2 linked regions of the Homo sapiens genome follow. The protein of the gene in region 1 purifies or fractionates together with the protein of each later gene. This does not show direct contact. Each region holds a gene or a part of one and is shown in the gene's direction. Other genes may lie near its edges.

Region 1 (3,409 bases):
CCTCAGGGAGCCCGGGGTCTCTGAGACGACTGCAAGCAAGCTGTGTGGTGGCTGCCACAGTTTCCAGAGAAATGGAGATTTAAGAGCCACACCTGCCCTGGCACGCTTTTGACTCAGTTTCCCTCTGGGGGGGTCCCCTCTAGGAAAATCCTTCAATAATCAAGTTTTTGTTGACTACCACCCAGGGATTAGTGGGGCCCACAAAACCACGTGTCAACAAGACACATCTACACCACACATCAACAACGAGTGTACCGCGCGTGTCTACACCACCCATCTATCCCATGCATCTACACGGCACATCCATATGCGTCTGTACCTCGTGTCTACACCACATGTCTGTACCACGTGTCTAGACTGCCCATCTACAACATGTGTCTACACCACCATCGGATTAATGCCTGCTGGTGGGTCAGCAGGGCAGGCAGGACACACAGAGGGGGCCACCAGCAGGAGCTGAGGGGCTCCAGGAAGGGAGTGACCCCGGGAGGCGTCCTCTGGGAGAACTCTGGGGGGCCAAGCTGGGCTGGAGCATGATTGTGGATATGACAGGAGAGGTAGAATAAACCTCACATTCTCCAAGGCCACCTCCAACCTCCTTAGGAAAAAAGTGAAGCTGGTTCCCAGGTTGGATCCCCTCCCACTTTCTCCCCAAGCGGAAGACAAAGCGGGGGTCTGAGTGCCGGGCGTGCACTGTTGTGGGTGCCCTTGGCCTGGCCCGGTGCCTCCTTCCTGGTCATGCTCAGGCCTTGACCTTTAATGGCCTGGTCACCTCTGAGCATTGCTCTGTGGTTGTGGCCTGACTGTGTGGCAGCTCATAGACACAGAGAGGTGTCACAGGCTGCAATCCAGGCTACCCATGTGAAACCAGCAGGCCATATCTTCAGGGCTGTTGGGTTCCCAACTCTATGGCTGCTGGACTTTGTTGTGTGCTGGCACTTCAGAGTCTGCAGAGAGGAATGAGGGGTGCTGGCCTCAAGCCAGAGCAGAGATGTATTCCTGGACAAAGGGCCAGCAGCCCAGAGGGCTTTGAATAGGGTCTACCCAGTGGGACAGACAGCCAGGACTAATGGGATGGAGGGAGGAGAAATCCCTGAGAGCTTCCTGGGGGAATCACTATTCAAAAGCACATTCTAAGTGCCTGCTGGGACAGAACTGCTTACAACACCCCTCCGACCTGGTGCTTGGTTTTCCCCCTTAGCAAAGGGAAGTGTTGTCACCCCAGAAGTTGCAGCTCAGGGGCCAGAGAAGCTGGTTTTCTAGGGTGCACGCAGGCTGGGCTGCTTCTCTCCACTCTAAAGCTAAGTCTCTGCCTCAGCCCACAGGCTTGTCCAGCACCGCCCTAGGATGCACTTGTCTCTCTCTCTCTCTCTCACCTCACCCTGTGGGGGATGGGGGACTCAGAGCCCCACCCCCAGGGCCTCTGAGGCTCAGGACAATCGTTGCCTTGGCTAGATTGTTACCTAGGAGACAACCCCCTGGCCCCCTGGAAGAGGCCTCAGCAGGCCCAGGCCACCTGGAGGGAGAGCAGACCTGCGGCTGAGGATGCAGGGCTCCCGGGCACGGTGCTAGCCCTGCCTTGAGACACCCCGAGAGCTGTGGGAAGAGCTGTGGGATCCCCTATTGCATCACAAAGCGGCCCTGGAGGGCTGGTCTTTATTTTGATGAGGCTGAGAAGGGAAGGCTGCGGGCATGTTTAATCCGCACGCTTTAGACTCCCCGGCTGTGATTTTTGACAATGGCTCGGGGTTCTGCAAAGCGGGCCTGTCTGGGGAGTTTGGACCCCGGCACATGGTCAGCTCCATCGTGGGGCACCTGAAATTCCAGGCTCCCTCAGCAGAGGCCAACCAGAAGAAGTACTTTGTGGGGGAGGAGGCCCTGTACAAGCAGGAGGCCCTGCAGCTGCACTCCCCTTTCGAGCGTGGCCTGATCACAGGGTGGGATGACGTGGAGAGACTCTGGAAGCACCTCTTTGAGTGGGAGCTAGGCGTGAAACCCAGCGACCAGCCCCTGCTTGCAACGGAGCCCTCCCTGAACCCCAGGGAGAACCGTGAGAAGATGGCAGAAGTCATGTTCGAGAACTTCGGCGTGCCCGCTTTCTACCTGTCGGACCAGGCGGTGCTGGCTCTCTACGCCTCTGCCTGTGTCACGGGCCTGGTGGTGGACAGCGGGGATGCGGTCACCTGCACTGTCCCCATCTTTGAGGGTTACTCCCTGCCCCACGCAGTCACCAAGCTCCACGTGGCGGGCAGGGACATCACGGAGCTCCTCATGCAGCTGCTCCTGGCCAGCGGCCACACCTTCCCCTGCCAGCTGGACAAGGGTCTCGTGGACGACATCAAAAAGAAGCTGTGCTACGTGGCCTTGGAGCCCGAGAAGGAGCTTTCCCGGAGGCCGGAGGAGGTCCTGAGGGAGTACAAGCTGCCCGACGGGAACATCATCAGCCTCGGGGACCCGCTGCACCAGGCGCCCGAGGCCCTGTTCGTGCCCCAGCAGCTGGGCAGCCAGAGCCCCGGGCTCTCGAATATGGTCTCCAGCAGCATCACCAAGTGTGATACCGACATCCAGAAGATCCTCTTTGGGGAGATTGTGCTGTCGGGGGGCACTACCCTGTTCCACGGGCTGGATGACCGGCTTCTCAAGGAGCTGGAGCAGCTGGCCTCCAAGGACACCCCCATCAAGATCACGGCTCCCCCCGACCGGTGGTTCTCCACCTGGATTGGAGCCTCCATCGTCACCTCTCTGAGTAGCTTCAAGCAGATGTGGGTCACCGCCGCAGACTTCAAGGAGTTTGGGACCTCCGTGGTGCAGAGAAGATGCTTCTGAAGGCCGCTTCTCGTTGGGTACCGTGGGGGGTGAACCCTAGCCCCAGCTTTGGGAGGATGTTCAATAAAGGACCAATGCCGGAACACCTGGCCACCTCGGCTCAGTTCCTTCTTGGGGGCGGCAGAGTCATTTCTGGCCCTGACAGTGAATCTGTGAAGTGTCTTGGTCCACACCCGCTCCCCTTCGCTTCCTCCCAAGAAAGCCTGGGCTGAGGCCAGGCTGTGTCCATCTGCAGTTTGTATGAAAGTAGGGCCCTGGGCCTCAGGTGAATAGGGCGCTGGAGTCCGCATTCTAAACAAGGGTCTTAGGTGGGCTGAGAGAGTCGGCAGGGATGGTGGGGACTAGCGCGTGCACCAGGTTCTGACGGCTCAGCAAGAAACCCCTCCCTGTGTGGGCCCTACCTAGCATGCCAGGGCCGGGGCTCTGCTTGTGTGAGGCCGGGCGGCTGAACAGGGTGGAGCTGCCGCTCTCAGCAGATAGGAACAGACGGGAACAGAAGTCACCGTTTGTTTAGGGCCCTCTAAACTCAGGGGTCCTGCTCCCAAAGGAAGTACAAAGAATCAACACTTCTGCTTAGCAAGTG
Region 2 (3,500 bases), on another chromosome or scaffold:
GAAAACAGCATGTGGCCACAGATTTGATTAGGTGGGTAGATGTAGCAGTGAGAGTCTGTGGAAATTATCTTTGGATTGTTGCTGTTTTGTCTGCAAAATAGGTCAGCTGCTGAGAATAAGTCTGGATGAGGAATGTTGGTGGTCTGAAGAGAGTAAAGTATGAAATCCAGAGGAGTGGGCCAGTGAGTGGACTAGTGCGGTGTGGTCTCTCTGCATCAGGGAGAGTCCATTTGAGGTAGCAATCACAAGTTTAAAGTGAGACACTCAACACAGTCATGTGTTTCTCACAGCAAATTCAGCTGCATAGGTACAGGTACAGATTAGGTGGAGAATTGGATAGGATAGAACCAGGCTGTGGTTGAGATGATTAAGTACAACCAAGTGAGACAACCAAGAGGGACTGAGTATGATTGCCTATGGAATTTAAGAGGAAGAAGACAAAGGTTTCTCACAAAAGCACTATAAAGTAGGTAATATAAGCAGTATTCCTGTTTTACAGATGAAGCCACTAATATAGAGCTTTCTTTTTTAAATCATACTTTAAATTCTGGGATACATGTGCAGAACGTGCAGGTTTGTTACATAGGTATACACGTGCCATGGTGGTTTGCTGCACCCATCAACCCATCATCTACGTTAGGTATTTCTCCTAATGCTATCCCTCCCCTAGCCCTCCATCCCCTGACAGGCCCCTGTGTGTGATGTAACCCTCCCTGTGTCCATGTTTTCTCATTGTTCAACTTCCACTTGTGAGTAAGAACATGCAGTGTTAAGTTTTCTGTTCCTGTGTTAGTTTGCTGAGAATGATGGTTTCCAGCTTCATCCATCTCCATGCAAAGGACATGAACTCATTGTTTTTTATGGCTGCATAGAACCACATTTTAAACCCAGATCTGTTAGCCTAGAAAATTTTTGTTGTTTCTCTTATGAGACATTATATTTTGCCTAATGATGGGTACGATGCTCAGCATCATACCCTTACCACCAACTCTTCTTTTTTTGAAGTGAAATGAAATGTTTAAATCTTTTTTGAAATGAATTTATCAATAGACTGAGTATAACCCCTGACAAGGAAGTATTATAGTTTAAGATGATAGGCAAAACTGGGCAGAGGCTGGCTAGTGTACTTGAAAGAGCACTGGGTGCTCGATTTGTGCTCTGCCATTCATTTGCTTCTCTGTAAGATGAGGGCTCAGACAATATCAGTGGTTCAAATATTCAGCTGAACTGGAAGTTCCAAGGAGTCCCTTCAGGGGCTGTCATAGCCTCCTCTACCAGAGCAGCTATGCTTTTTGCTTTCATCTACGCTTGTGTTTTTATATCTATATAAGATTTTATTCAAATGGATGACCCATGACCCCCTCACTACCTGCAGAAAGAATTTGAAAACCTCTAGACTAAATGATCTCTCTGGTTTCTTCTCACCTGAATGTTCTTTGAGCCTTGCCTACTGTGTGTGTGTGTGTGTGTGTGTGTGTGTGCATGCGTGTGTGTGTGTCTGTACTAAGCACTATGAGGATTACCTAGAAAGCATTTCTCTTTCTCTAAGACTTAAGGCAAATATGTATAAAAGATTAAATTTATGTAACATCAATAACTAAAAAACATACAATGCATTTTAAATCCAACTAAAGTACAGGCTCTTCAAAAGCTATTTTCTGTTTCTTTATATATTTTCAGCCTTAAGCCTGAAGATTTCTCAATTGAGGGTAAGGTGGTACTCACCCCTTAGGGGCATTTTATAAATCTGAAGACATGCTTTTATGTCTGCTAATATTGTCTCTGAGAATGTATGTATTGAAACAAGTATTTTGTTAAATTTTAAATTAGTTTCTTTATGGTACTCTTTTATATTACCAGTAAGAAATCATTTTTTAAAATGGTGTGTTGGTAGATTATGACTATCCTTTGATGTTGATGAAGAGGTATCACAAAATATTTGTCATAAGAAAGAGGTACTGGGTTTGATATGGTTGAGAACTACTGGTCCGTGTTCTATACTGTGGTACCCAGAAGTTTGGAAGTGATGGTAGTATAATCATGTATCAGATTGAGTGGTAGATATTGCTAATGATGTGTGAAATTAGAAAAAGTAAAGATTGTTCTGGACTTGGGTAGCCATGAAATCTTCAGTGGGAGGAGAGGATTGTTAGAGGGGATCTTACATTCAGCATTATGATAAACCCTTGACATGACATACCTTATCTTGAAGAAATGAATGACCAGACTTGTCCGAGAGACTAAGAAGGTACTTTCCAAGTAGGGTAAGTCATAGAATTTAAAGCTGGAAAGGCCCTAAGAATCACCTAGGCCAGACATTTTTAGTTCAGGGTTGTTGCCCTTTGAAGTTCATGGATGGATTTCAAGGAACTTGTGAATCACTTGACATTGTGTGTATCATTTAGCATGTCTTTCTGAGGGGAATTGGGTTCCTCGTTCTCATTCTCAAAAAGGCCCATCATCTCTAAGAGGTTAAGGCCTGCTGATCTAGTGTGGTCCCAGACTGAGGTAGATGGTTTGCTCAAGGTTACACAGCCAGTTAGGGGCAGAGATGAGGATTGACACCCAGTGACTTCCAGTTTCTTTCTCATTTCACTGTACTCAACTAAATTACATGAACAAAGGCACAGGCAGGATTAAGCTACCATTTTATATTAGATGGTATAAAAACAATCAACTAGCCTGGGGTCAATTGAATTAAGTCTGTCAGTCTGTTTCTACAAAAGTTGCAGAAGGATGGGCTTCAGTTTGTCTCTTCAAAGTGAACTAATATTTTGATTTTTCTGGTTGAAATATGCTACAACTCACCGAAGTAGCTTTCTCAGTTGAAGGTAAGCTCCTTAAAAAATGTTCCTATTCTTGGGCCGGGTGTGGTGGCCCCCGCCTGTAATCCCAGCACTTTGGGAGGCCATTGAGGGCAGATAGCTTGAGTCCAGGATTTTGAGAACAGCCTGAGCAACAATGGCAAAACCCCGTCTCTACAAAAAATGGAAAAAAACTAGCCAGGCATGGTGATGCACATCTGTGTTCCCAGCTACTCGGGAGGCTGAGGTGGGAGGATCTTTTGAGTCCGGGAGGCAGAGGTTGCAGTGAGCTGAGATCATGCCACTGCACTCTGGCCCGTGTGACAAAGTGAGACCTTGTCTCAAAAAAAAAAAAAAAAAAAAAAGAAAGAAAAGAAATATTACTATTCTTGAGCCTGTTTCTGCGGTTTCTTTCCAATGGCACTGTTTTTCTAACCTGCAGCAGCCCCCAGCTTTCCACATAATCCAATCAAAATTACTTTGCCTGATTTGTTAGATTTTGTAACTACCGTAGCGTATTTAGTCAAGCGTATTTAGCGTATTTAGTGTATGCTGTGCCCCAGTCAGACTAGTGTCCTTGCTATTGGTACTTCCTATTCTCCCAAAGTCCTTTCATTCCCACCTTCGTATCTTTTTTCATATGGTCCCTGAGCCTGGAATACCTTCCATTCCTCTTTCATTTCTAGATGCCCAACA

The links.
Region 2: the proteins of ACTRT2 (region 1) and ACSL4 purify together in Homo sapiens (affinity purification with mass spectrometry; one large-scale study listed by BioGRID and IntAct). This does not show direct contact.

Annotation. Positions count from the first base shown.
Region 1 is NC_000001.11:3,019,995-3,023,403, forward strand, and holds ACTRT2 (actin-related protein T2), read left to right. Parts: upstream 1-1,472; 5' UTR 1,473-1,692; coding exon 1,693-2,826; 3' UTR 2,827-2,909; downstream 2,910-3,409.
Region 2 is NC_000023.11:109,684,758-109,688,257, reverse strand, and holds part of ACSL4 (long-chain-fatty-acid--CoA ligase 4), read left to right. Parts: intron 1-2,813; exon of another isoform or gene 2,814-2,831; intron 2,832-3,500. UniProt on the Homo sapiens protein: Catalyzes the conversion of long-chain fatty acids to their active form acyl-CoA for both synthesis of cellular lipids, and degradation via beta-oxidation. Preferentially activates arachidonate and eicosapentaenoate as substrates.